Homo sapiens: one gene and its partner. The protein of the gene in region 1 interacts with the protein of each later gene in a pairwise test. Each region holds a gene or a part of one and is shown in the gene's direction. Other genes may lie near its edges.

The links.
Region 2: the proteins of NR1I3 (region 1) and MAP4 interact in a two-hybrid assay, tested with the Homo sapiens proteins (one study listed by BioGRID).

The regions. Positions count from the first base shown.
Region 1 is NC_000001.11:161,229,169-161,235,486, reverse strand, and holds the end of NR1I3 (nuclear receptor subfamily 1 group I member 3), read left to right. Parts: intron 1-2,148; coding exon 2,149-2,318; intron 2,319-2,540; coding exon 2,541-2,680; intron 2,681-4,012; coding exon 4,013-4,158; intron 4,159-4,241; coding exon of another isoform or gene 4,242-4,253; coding exon 4,254-4,370; intron 4,371-4,553; coding exon of another isoform or gene 4,554-4,568; coding exon 4,569-4,674; intron 4,675-4,740; exon of another isoform or gene 4,741-5,560; coding exon 5,561-5,690; 3' UTR 5,691-5,714; coding exon of another isoform or gene 5,715-5,805; 3' UTR 5,806-5,818; downstream 5,819-6,318. UniProt on the Homo sapiens protein: Binds and transactivates the retinoic acid response elements that control expression of the retinoic acid receptor beta 2 and alcohol dehydrogenase 3 genes.
Region 2 is NC_000003.12:47,915,173-47,922,455, reverse strand, and holds part of MAP4 (microtubule-associated protein 4), read left to right. Parts: intron 1-577; coding exon 578-691; intron 692-3,614; coding exon 3,615-3,737; intron 3,738-5,281; coding exon 5,282-6,505; intron 6,506-7,283. UniProt on the Homo sapiens protein: Non-neuronal microtubule-associated protein. Promotes microtubule assembly.

The DNA.
Region 1 (6,318 bases):
ACCATTCTGGCTAACACAGTGAAACCCCGTCTCTACTAAAAAAATACAAAAAAAATTAGCCGGCCGTAGTGGCGGGCGCCTGTAGTCCCAGCTACTCGGGAGGCTGAGGCAGGAGAATGGCGTGAACCCGGGAGGCGGAGCTTGCAGTGAGCCGAGATCGCGCCACTGCACTCCAGCCTGGGTGACAGAGCCAGATTCCGACTCAAAAAAAAAAAAAAAAAAAAAAAAAACACCAAGCGCACTCTTCCCCAAGGCTTTTCCACTTGCCATTTCCTCTACCTGAAATGCTTTTCTCCTAGATAGCCACATGGCTAGTCTTGTCTTTTCTTTTCTTTCTATTTTTTTTGATAGAGTCTCATACTCTGTTGCCCAGGCTGGAGTGCAGTGGCGCCATCTCGGCTCACTGCAACCTCCGCCTCCTGCGTTCAAGTGATTCTCCTGCCTCAGCCTCCTGCATAGCTGGGATTACAGGCATGTGCCACCACACCCAGCTAATTTTTTGTATTTTTAGTAGAGATGAGCTTTCACCATGTTGACCACGCTGGTCTCAAACTCCTGGCCTCAGGCGATCTGCCCACCTCCGCCTCCCAAAGTGCTCAGATTACAGGTGTGTTTTTTATTTTCTATCTGTTGAGTATAGTGCCTGTCACCTAGTAGGTGCTCAATAACTTAATTAATGCTTTCTCTGTGCCAGGTAACTGTGCTATGCTCCCAAAGGAGGATGTAACTGGGGCTCACGGAAGTTAATTTGCCCAAGTTAATTCAACTAAAAACTTGTGCAGGCCGAGCACGGTGGCTCACACCTCTAATCCCAGCACTTTGGAAGGCTGAGACAAGAGGATTGTTGAGGTCAGGAATTCAAGACCAGCCTGGTCAACAGAGTGAGATGTCCTCTCTAGGAAAAGAAGAAGGAAGAAGAAGTTGTACAGTCAGTATTCAAACTCAAGTTTACCTGACTCCCAAACTCTTGCTTTTTCCATATCACACGATTCTCACTATGGAAGAATGAAAGGAAACTGTAGAAGTCAAAGGATCTTGGTCTGAATTCAAGATCTTGGTTTGATCTTGGATCTTTTGCAGAAGTCAAAAGATTTTGGTTTGAATTCAATCTATATTACTTATTTTGTGACCTTGGTTCTGTCACCAGAATCTAAGCCTGTCCACATTTCTAAAAAATGTGATTGGGCTGGGTGCAGTGGCTCACGCCTGTAATCCCAGCACTTTGGGAGGCCGAGGTGAGTGGATCACTTGAGGTCAGGAGTTCGAGACCAGCCTGGCCAACATGGTGAAACCCCGTCTCTACTAAAAATACAAAAAAAAAAAAAAATTAGCAGGGCGTGATGGTGGGTGCCTGTAATCCCAGCTAGTCAGGAGGCTGAGGCAGGGAGAATTGCTTGAACCCAGGGGGCAGAGGTTGCAGTGAGCCGAGATTGCTCCATTGCACTCCAGCCTGGGCGACAGAGTGACAGACTCCATCTCAAAACAAAACAAAACAAACAAAAAAATATATATATACACATATATATACACATATATACACATATATACATGTATACACATATATATACATATATACACATATATATACACACACATATACACACACACACACACACACACACACACACACACACACACACACACACACATATATATATGATGAATACCAGCCCTGCCTATCCTGGGGTTGTTTCATTCAGTGGGATTTAACCTCAGAAGTTTTGAAATTTTGCTAAAACATCAGATAAAGGTTTATTTGAAAGGATTATTTGATTATTTTTGAAGGATTATTTGAAAACATCATATAAAGTGATGTTCTAGGTATGAAGACCCCTCCCTCTACACTGTTTCCCCAAAAGCCCTCGCACCTTTCCTCACATCTTTCATACTTTCCTCGCCACCCTTCCCTTCTCCCCCACAGTGCAGTTTTCTGCTGCAGTTCTTCACAGGTTGGTGGAAGTGTATAGGAGCCCCCTGCCTCCTGGAGCCTCTAGGACTTTAGCCAAGCCCAAGAAAGTCTCAGGAATTCCCCCCACTGCCCCCATCCTTCGTTGTGCAGGGCAGCTGAGGGGCCCCAGATCAGGGACCAGCAGAGAGAAATGCTCTGCTGGTCTCAACAGCTTTGTCATGATCTCTTGCCTGGCACAGTGATACTGTCGGCAGAAGCCCTGGCATTGCGGCGAGCAAAGCAGGCCCAGCGGCGGGCACAGCAAACACCTGTGCAACTGAGTAAGGAGCAAGAAGAGCTGATCCGGACACTCCTGGGGGCCCACACCCGCCACATGGGCACCATGTTTGAACAGTTTGTGCAGTTTAGGGTGAGCACCGACAGGATTTGGGTTGGAATACAACTAAAAGGGCACCCAAAAATGCTGGTCTGAAGGAGAGGGGTGTATGCCATGCACTGATACTGAGAACAGATCTCCAGAACCCCAGCCTGAGCAGGCTTCTCAGCAAGGAACTCTTCCAAGATAAGGCTGGCGAGGCCTAAAGGAGGGCCCTAGGGCCAGAGCCTCTAGCTAATGTTCTGATCATTGCAGCCTCCAGCTCATCTGTTCATCCATCACCAGCCCTTGCCCACCCTGGCCCCTGTGCTGCCTCTGGTCACACACTTCGCAGACATCAACACTTTCATGGTACTGCAAGTCATCAAGTTTACTAAGGACCTGCCCGTCTTCCGGTGAGTGACCTCCCCTCATCTTTCAGGAGGCAAACACTTCAGTAAATTGTATATCCACCCCGAAAAGTCACTGACTACAAATTATCACATGCGTCAGCCTTTCCAAGCATTAGGTCTTGAATTCCCAGCTTTGGTTTTAAATGTGCCAATCAGAACTGGGAGTTCTTCTCCATCTCTGAAGTACAGGCTTGCATCTAAAGTGCCCTTGAGGTGCCGCGCAGTGGCTCACACTAGTAATCCCAGCACTTTGGGAGGCGGAGGCTGGCAGATCGCTTGAGTCCAGAAGTTTGAGACCAGCCTCAGCAACATGACAAAACCCCAACTCTACAAAAAATACAAAAATTAGCTGGGCATGATGGTGGGTGCCTGTAGTCCCAGGTACTCAGGAAGCTGAAGTGGGAGGATCACTTGAGCCCAGGAGGTTGAGGCTGCAGTGAGCTCAGATAGCACCGCTGCATTCCAGCCTGGGTGACAGAGTGAGACTCTGTCTCAAAAAATGAAAGCTAAAAATAATAATAATAGGCCAGGCACGGTGGCTCATGCCTGTAATCCCAGCACTTTGAGAGGCCAAGGTGGGTGGATCACTTGAGCTCAGGAATTTGAGACCAGCCTGGCCAACATGGTGAAATCCGTCTCTACTAAAAATACAAAACTTAGCTGGGTGTGGTGGTGGGCGCCTATAATCCCAGCTTCTCAGGAGGCTGAGGCAGAAGAATCACTTGAACCCAGGAGGCGGAGGTTTGCTGTAGCCGAGATCAGGCCACTACATCCAGCCTGGGTGACAGAGCAACACTCTGTCTCAAAAATAAATTAATTAATAAGAATAATAATAAGGTGCCCTTGTCGGCTGGGCACAGTGGCTCACACCTATAATCCCAGCACTTTGGAAGGCCAAGGCAGGAGGACTGCTTGAGCCTAGGAGTTCGAGACCACCCTGGGCAACATAGTAAGACTCCATCTTTACAAAAAATAAAAACATATAAACAAACAAAAAATTAAAAAGTGGGCCGGGTGCAGTGGCTCATGCCTGTAATCCCAGCACTTTGAGAGGTCAAGGCAGGTGGATCACCTGAGGTCAGTAGTTGGAGACCAGCCTGGCCAACATGGTGAAAACCCGTCTCTACTAAAAATACAAAAAATCAGCCAGGCATGGTGGCACACGCCTGTAATCCAAGCTACTTGGGAGGCTGAGGCAGGAGAATTGCTTGAACCCAGGAGGCAGAGGTTACAGTGAGCAGAGATCACGCCACTGCACTCCAGCCAGGGTGACAGTGAGACTCTGTCTCAGAAAAAAAAAAATTGAAAAGTGTCCTTGTTTCCTGCTTTCCACAGTTCCCTGCCCATTGAAGACCAGATCTCCCTTCTCAAGGGAGCAGCTGTGGAAATCTGTCACATCGTACTCAATACCACTTTCTGTCTCCAAACACAAAACTTCCTCTGCGGGCCTCTTCGCTACACAATTGAAGATGGAGCCCGTGGTGAGATGGTGCTAGAGCAATAGGGGGCATGTGTCCTCATGGTACAGGATGTGGTCAGGTGACCTAGAGGCTCCTAATCCTAGTATCTCCCACAGTGGGGTTCCAGGTAGAGTTTTTGGAGTTGCTCTTTCACTTCCATGGAACACTACGAAAACTGCAGCTCCAAGAGCCTGAGTATGTGCTCTTGGCTGCCATGGCCCTCTTCTCTCCTGGTGAGCACCTCCCAAAGCCCAGAGCCTTTTGCTGCACCACCTCTGCCCAAATACTCAGCTCCTTGAGTCCATCCACCCAGGCCTTCTAGCCTAGCTATCAAACCTGCAGACTAGGTCTATCCCAGCCTCAGTCCCCGGGGCACCACGCAGGCCCACCCCTGCCACCCAACTTGTCCTTCCCAGCTCCCTATCTTACAGACCGACCTGGAGTTACCCAGAGAGATGAGATTGATCAGCTGCAAGAGGAGATGGCACTGACTCTGCAAAGCTACATCAAGGGCCAGCAGCGAAGGCCCCGGGATCGGTACGGTGGGACACTGAGGGCTTGGAGGCCACACCAGGGCAGGAAGGGGTTGGTGAAACATTGAGCTTGGGAGGAATGTTTTTTTACTGTCCTTTCCTTAGGGAATTCAGGTATCGTGGGGTCTAGTCCTTCCCCCTGGCCATCCCTGTCTCACATCGTTTCAGCATCCAAATTGCTGTATTTGGATACTGCTGTTTCATCTCACTTTTTCCAGATTTTTTTTTTATTCAGTACAGATGCAAAGTAGTAGCTCAGAGGCTCTGGGTAATAGCATTCCTGAGATTGATGACATCCATTACCTCACTAGTCCAACTTCTCCAGACTAACGCAGACTTTTCTCTTCCCTTGGCCTTTCCTCTCCTCGCCATTGGGCCAATTCCTTCGATTTCTCATTTCCCTTGAAGTTAGGGCCATTCACAGTTTCATGGTCAAAGCCAGTTCCAGGTTCAATAGTCTGTGATTTATCCAGGCTCTGAGGTATGCACCGCTTCTGTTTTGCTCGTTCCTCCAAGAGCTAGTTTGGCCAGAAAGGGGATGCTTTATACCATAGAACACATCCACCTTCTAGAACCTGCTCTAGAAGGCCAGGCCCTCAGATTCCACATGGTTGGAGTTCTGGCCAAGTCTGGAGCTTTCTTCACACTCGGCTCTCAGAGCTCTGGGTTCAGAAAAAACTGAGCATGGTGAGAGAAGACAGTGTCAGACCGAGGCCCCCTGGAGGACCTTTGGAACCTCTGATAGTCTGTCATACCAGAGCATGATTTTCTCTAATGTTCAGACCTGGCTTCACTGAGGAATAGTTCAGGGGATCAGGGCCTAGAGACAAGACTCCCAACTGCCTTATTTCCCTCCTGTTTTCCTGGCAACCCCACTACTTCCTCCAAAGGTTTCTGTATGCGAAGTTGCTAGGCCTGCTGGCTGAGCTCCGGAGCATTAATGAGGCCTACGGGTACCAAATCCAGCACATCCAGGGCCTGTCTGCCATGATGCCGCTGCTCCAGGAGATCTGCAGCTGAGGCCATGCTCACTTCCTTCCCCAGCTCACCTGGAACACCCTGGATACACTGGAGTGGGAAAATGCTGGGACCAAAGATTGGGCCGGGTTCAAAGGGAGCCCAGTGGTTGCAATGAAAGACTAAAGCAATAACTGCCTCTTCATGCGGTCATGGGGATAGTGGGGGTGACCATAGGAACAAAGTTGTTCTCTGGAAGCACAGAAGATGGGAAGGAGGAAACCTCAGGGCTAAGAGGTAAAGAAGCTCCTTCTGGGAATGGGTGGGCCCCACTTCCTGAGACCAAACATCTAGCCCTTCAGCCCTACTTTCCCAGCCTTGGGAGGCTCTGGGATGGAAAACAGGATGGTCAGCTAATCCCATGCAGGATTAACCAAAGGGAAAGGAAGAAGGAAGCCTGAGGGCAAGGGGTGCCGGGGGAATTCAGCCATACCCCTTAATCCTTCTCCCTTAGTCCACAGCCACAAGAGCATGGGGAAGGTGATACTGGGGCTGGTAGCAGAGGGGGGATCCTCAAACCTCTGCCTCATCAACTGCCCCTGTGGCAGCTCCAGTTCTGAGGAGGGCATGGTCCTGTCCACCACTCTGCTCCTGGGTCCTAGAGATCACCCAGCAAGGTGGGCTCTGAAGA
Region 2 (7,283 bases), on another chromosome or scaffold:
GCTGAGCATTAGTTGCCCTTTTTGTTTTATGCATTTGTTGGCTATCTGATGTACATAACCAAATCTTAGAGAAGGGATTATTTATTATTAACTCATAACAAATGAATTAGTGAATATTGATTCTCTACCATGTGCAGTCACATATGATTTCGGTTTACTTACTATTGACAACTCATCTATATTCATCATAGGATAATAAGAAATATTGGCCAGGCATGGTGGCTCACGCCTGTAATCCTAATACTTTGGGAGGCCGAGGTGGGCAGATCACTTGAGATCAGGAGTTTGAGACTAGCCTGGCCAACGTGGAGAAACCTTGTCTCTACAAAAAAATACAAAAATTAGCCAGGCATGGTGGCGGGCATCTGTAATCCCAGCTACTTAAGAGGCTGAGGCAGGAGAATTGCTTGAACCTGGGAGGTAGAGGTTGCAGTGAACCAAGATGGCACCACTGCACTCCAGCCTTGGCAACAGAGCAAGACTCCACCTCAAAAAAAAAAAAGAAAGAAAGAAAGAAATATTAATCTTTCTAGTTGCATTCACCAGGAATGAGTTTTGGATTTCTTCTATATTCCAGATCCCTTTAAGATGTACCATGATGATGACCTGGCAGATTTGGTCTTTCCCTCCAGTGCGACAGCTGATACTTCAATATTTGCAGGACAAAATGATCCCTTGAAAGACAGTTACGGTATGGCTTCTTCAAATGGATTTATTCTGTAGGGAAGGAAAAAAATTTTTTCTTTACTCATCTTTGGTTCACTGACTAGGGCTCTGTGACAAAAGATTAACAAGAAAAAAGAGACCAAAGTTTAAAATGTGAATTTAATATGTACATGAGAGGTACCTAGGGAATGAGTAACTCCGCAAGAGGTGGCTTTAGAATTCCACCTTATATAGCTTCTTCAATAAAGAATGACAAATTTTTTTTTTGAGAGGTGAGAAGATGAAGGAAAAGACTTTTGAGTCTCTAGGGGCCGCAAATTGTGGGAGACAGGTAAATGGTAGGTAAAAGCTAGTTAGTAAAGGTTGCTGTGTAGATTCCTATGGTGCCATCTCCAGGCTAATAATAGCCTTCAGCTTAAAAAAGTCCTTATGCCAAAGTAGCGTATTTTGGGGTGGCATATTCTGGTGTCCTTTAGTTGTTTAATGCCAAACAATCAACATGGCCTTTCACACATCACCTTTGAAGCTAACCACTAAGAAAAGTCAGATTTAGGGGCTGTGGGTGTGACAAGGCTCTCTTTGGATTAATCAAAGGAGACAATTCACAGATTCACAGTTGGGCTGTCATCTCCCCTTTTTTTTGAGACAGGGTCTCACTCTGTCACCCAGGTTGGAGTGCAGTGATGCGATCACGGCCCACTGCAGCCTTGGCCTCCTGGTCAGGTGATCCTCCCACCTCAATCTCCTGAGCAGCTGGGATTACAGGTGTGTACCACTATGCCTGGCTAATTTTTTGTAGAGATGGGGTTTTGTCACGTTGCCCAGGCTGGTCTTGAACTCCTGGGCTCAAGTGATCCACCCGCTTCAGCCTCCCAAAGTGCTGAGATTACAGGCGTGAGCCTTTGCACCCAGCCACATTTTTCTACTTCTTCATTTACAGGCAGACACAGTGGCTCATGCCTGTAACCCTAGCACTTTGGGAAGCTGAGGTGACAGGATTGCTTGAGCCCAGCAATTTGAAACCAATCTGGGCAACATAGGGAGATCCTGTCCTACAAAAAATTTTAAAATTCATCCAGGCGTGGTGGCACATGCCTGTAGTCTCAGCTACTCAAGAGGCTGAGGTGGAAGGATTGCTTGAGCCCAGAAGGTCGAGGCTGCATTGAGCCATGATCATGCCACTGTACTCCAGCCTGGACAACAGAGTTGAGACCCTGTCTTAAAAAAAAAAAAAAAAAAAAAAAACCATCTGGGTGCAGTGGCACACGCCCGTAATCCCAGCACTTTGGGAGGCCAAGGCGGATGGATCACTTGAGGCCAGGAGTTCAAGACCAGCCTGGCCAAAATGGTGAAATCCCGTCTCTACTAAAAATACAAAAATTAGGCTGGGCCTAATGGCTCATGCCTGTAATCCCAGCACTTTGGGAGGCAGAGGCGGGCAGATCACCTGAGGTCAGGAGTTTGAGACCAGCCTGGCCAACATGGTGAAACCCCATCTCTACTAAAAATAGAAAAATTAGGCCGAGTGTGGTGGCTCATGCCTGTAATCCCAGCACTTTGGGAGACGGAGGTGGGCAGATCACCTGAGGTCAGGAGTTCGAGACCAGCCTGGCCAACATGGTGAAACACTGTCTCGACTAAAAATACAAAAATTAGCTGGGAGTGGTGGCAGACACCTATAATCCCAGCTACTCAGGAGGCTGAGTCAGAAGAATCACTTGAACCTGGGAGGTGGAGGTTGCAGTGAGCTGAGATTGTGCCATTGCACTCCAGCCTGGGCAACGAGCAAGAATCCATCTCAAAAATTAATAAATAAATATAATAAAAATAAGAAAATTAGCTGGGCAAACAACAACAACAACAACAACAACAAAACTGCTACAAAGTATTTTAATAAAATTGTCTTCTAATGTTGGAAAGGGAGGTGTTAATCTCATTTTGCAGATGAAGAAATTAAGACTCGCAGTTTTTTACTATAGTATATTATGTTGGTTGTGGTGTTGGAACTAGAGTTCAATCATTAATATTTTGAATCTTTATATTACCCTTTATATATTATATAGAAAGTAGCCAGTGAATGTTGATTAATGGCACTACTGGGATATACTATACCACCTACTAACAACTAGCTAAAACCTGAAGAATGTCAGCAGTGTTTCCTTTAAAACTTGTTTGCGTTGTCGGCCGGGCGCGGTGTCTCACACCTGTAATCCCAGCACGTTGGGAGGCCAAGGCGGGTGGATCATGAGGTCAGGAGTTCGAGACCAATCTGGCCAACATAGTGACACCCCATCTCTATTAAAAATACAAAAAAATTAGCCAGGTGTGGTGGTGTGTGCTTGTAGTCCCAGCTACTTGAGAGGCTGAGGCAGGAGAATGGCGTGAACCTGGGAGGCAGAGATTGCAGCGAGCCGAGATCGTGCCATTGCACTCCAGCCCAGGCGACAGTGCGAGACTCTGTCTCAAAAAAAGAAAAAAAACTTTTTTTGCATTGTTTTTTATTAGTCTGTGTCTTCCTGGCAATATATGCAGCTGATTTTAAATATCAAATACCTCTTAGGCCGGGCGCGGTGGTTCACGCCTGTAATCCCAGCACTTTGGGAGGCCGAGGCGGTTGGATCAAGAGGTCAGGAGATCGAGACTATCCGGGCTAACATGGTGAAACCCCGCCTCTACTAAAAATACAAAAAATTAGCCGGGAGCTGTGGCAGGCGCCTGTAGTCCCAGCTACTCGGGAGACTGAGGCAGGAGAATGGCGTGAACCCGGGAAGCGGAGCTTGCAGTGAGCCGAGATCACGCCACTTCACTCTGTCTGCGTGGGCAACAGAGCGAAACTCTGTCTCAAAAAAAAAACAAACAAAACAAAACAAAACAAAAATATATCAAATACCTTTTGTTTCCAATGTTTACTAAGTTTCAAAATGTATTTGTTTGTGTTTCAATATTAGGTATGTCTCCCTGCAACACAGCTGTTGTACCTCAGGGGTGGTCTGTGGAAGCCTTAAACTCTCCACACTCAGAGTCCTTTGTTTCCCCAGAGGCTGTTGCAGAACCTCCTCAGCCAACGGCAGGTAAACTATTAGAGACTCCCTTTATCAGTTAATGGTTGCAGTATTGGTAATCAATATAAATCATCAGGTGTATTTTTTAGCAGCTTACAGCAGGTATAAAAATTTCAGAACAATCACAAATGTTTTGCTTATATTAGTGATATCACCACTGGAGGAATTAAATTGTTGAACTATAACACTTAGGGTTAACGGGCACATAAATACTTTTTTTAAATTTTTTAACATATATATATTTTTTTCATCACATTTTCATTGTATTAGGTATCAGAATTTTTTTTTTTAATTCAGTACAGATTTACGGCCTGGTGTGGTGGCTCACACTTATAATCCCAGCACTTTGGGAAGCTGAGGCAGGCAGATCACTTGAGGTCAGGAGTTCCAGACCAGCCCAGCCAACATGGTGAAACCCCATTTCTACAAAAAATACAAAAATTGGTCTAGGCACGGTGGCTCACGCCTGTAATCCCAACACTTTGGGAGGCCAAGGCGGGCAGATCACCTGAGGTCAGGAGTTCGAGACCAGCCTGGCCAACATGGTGAAACCCCGTCTCTACTAAAAATACAAAAAATTAGCTGGGCGTGGTGGCAGGTGCCTGTAATCCCAGCTACTAGGGAGGCTGAGGCAGGAGAATCACTTGAAACCGGAAGGCAGAGGTTGCTGTCAGCCGAGATTGCGCCACTGCACTCCAGCCTGGGTGAAAGAGCTAAATAAATAAATAAATAAGCTCAGCGTGGTGGCGTGTACCTATAATCCCAGCTACTAGGGAGGCTGAGACAGGAGAATTGCTTGAACCCGGGAGCCGAGATCATGCTACTGCACTCCAGCTTGGGCAACAGCGTGAGACCGTGTCTCAAAAAACAAAAACAAAAATTCAGTACAGATTTAGAACTCTGGAGTTTTTCTTGATAGGAAGCATGACTGACCTGCTGTCCCACAGATTATCTTTCTAATACTAATTCTGTGCCCGTGTTATTTTTGAAGCCTATGTTTTCTCTCTTCTTTGCCATTTCTCCTCCACTACTTGTCCTCCCAGTATTTTACATCTTATTCTTCCAAGTGTTGAGACTGTCAAAGAGTAGGCAGAATATGTTACTTGACATTAGCTTCTTCTTCTTTTTTTTTTTTTTTTTTTGAGACGGACTCTTGCCCTGTCCCCCAGGCTGGAGTGCAATGCCGTGATCTCGGTTCATTGCAAACTCCGCCTCCTGGGTTCTAGCAATTCTCCTGCTTCAGCCTCCCAAGTAGCTGGGATTACAGGCGCCTGCCACTGCATGGCTAATTTCTGTATTTTTAGTAGAGACAGGGTTTCACCATGTTTGTCAGGCTGGTCTCGAACTCCTGACCTCAGATGATCCATCCGCCTCGGCCTCCCAAAGTTCTGGGATTACAGGCGTGAGCCACTGTGCCCGGCCTAACATTAATTCTTAGTTATGTGTACAGTCTTATGGTCACAAAAGCCAAATACTCTCATGCCTGAAGAAAGTAAGCATTTTTAATGCAAAGGTATGAGTAGACAATGATGTGTCCTAAATTTCCAATTTAGTTCCCTTAGAGCTAGCCAAGGAGATAGAAATGGCATCAGAAGAGAGGCCACCAGCACAAGCATTGGAAATAATGATGGGACTGAAGACTACTGACATGGCACCATCTAAAGAAACAGAGATGGCCCTCGCCAAGGACATGGCACTAGCTACAAAAACCGAGGTGGCATTGGCTAAAGATATGGAATCACCCACCAAATTAGATGTGACACTGGCCAAGGACATGCAGCCATCCATGGAATCAGATATGGCCCTAGTCAAGGACATGGAACTACCCACAGAAAAAGAAGTGGCCCTGGTTAAGGATGTCAGATGGCCCACAGAAACAGATGTATCTTCAGCCAAGAATGTGGTACTGCCCACAGAAACAGAGGTAGCCCCAGCCAAGGATGTGACACTGTTGAAAGAAACAGAGAGGGCATCTCCTATAAAAATGGACTTAGCCCCTTCCAAGGACATGGGACCACCCAAAGAAAACAAGAAAGAAACAGAGAGGGCATCTCCTATAAAAATGGACTTGGCTCCTTCCAAGGACATGGGACCACCCAAAGAAAACAAGATAGTCCCAGCCAAGGATTTGGTATTACTCTCAGAAATAGAGGTGGCACAGGCTAATGACATTATATCATCCACAGAAATATCCTCTGCTGAGAAGGTGGCTTTGTCCTCAGAAACAGAGGTAGCCCTGGCCAGGGACATGACACTGCCCCCGGAAACCAACGTGATCTTGACCAAGGATAAAGCACTACCTTTAGAAGCAGAGGTGGCCCCAGTCAAGGACATGGCTCAACTCCCAGAAACAGAAATAGCCCCGGCCAAGGATGTGGCTCCGTCCACAGTAAAAGAAGTGGGCTTGTTGAAGGACATGTCTCCACTATCAGAAACAGAAATGGCTCTGGGCAAGGATGTGACTCCACCTCCAGAAACAGAAGTAGTTCTCATCAAGAACGTATGTCTGCCTCCAGAAATGGAGGTGGCCCTGACTGAGGATCAGGTCCCAGCCCTCAAAACAGAAGCACCCCTGGCTAAGGATGGGGTTCTGACCCTGGCCAACAATGTGACTCCAGCCAAAGATGTTCCACCACTCTCAGAAACAGAGGCAACACCAGTTCCAATTAAAGACATGGAAATTGCACAAACACAAAAAGGAATAAGTGAGGATTCCCATTTAGAATCTCTGCAGGATGTGGGGCAGTCAGCTGCACCTACTTTCATGATTTCACCAGGTACGTGCTTGTGCTTATTCTCAGTATTTCTCTCTACCAGGTTGTAGTCTCGAGAAGACTAAGGACAAACATCATGCCAGGTAAAGTACAGACAGTCACACTGTACTTTGCAAGTTTATTCATACTCCTGCTCTCCTAGACAACTCTTTCCCGCCTTTACCCTCCTCCCACCTCCAACACCTTTTCTATGTTCATTCTCTGCTGATTGTCCTGTTTTTCTTGCAGATAAGTCAAGCAATAAAATAGAACATCGACAAACTTCTATTCCATTATCTACCCAACTACTTGTATCTGTATCCATGGTCTCTGCTTATGAAAGTTCCCGTTTTTATAAGTAAACTGTTCCTGCTCCTAATTAAGACCAACCTCTCCTCATTTTGCCCTAGATTCCATCTCCTCTTTCCTACTCGATATATTGCCCCATGTATTCTTCCCTTTTTTGCCCCTCATACCAATTTAAATCTTTTTTCATTGGATCATTCCCACCCATTTAACAAACGTTTGTTATTTTTCCCATCTTAAAAAACGAAACATTGACCGGGCATGGTGGCTCACACCTGTAATCCCAGCACTTTGGGCGGCCGAGGTGGGCGGATCACCTGAGGTCGGGAATTCAAGACTAGCCTGACCAACATGGAGAAACCCCGTCTCCACTAAAAATACAAAATTAGCCGGGCATGGTGGCGCATGCCTGTAATCCCAGCTACTCGGGAGGCTGAGGCAGGAGAATCACTTGAACCTGGGAGACGGAGGTTGTGGTGAGCCGAGATCGCACCAT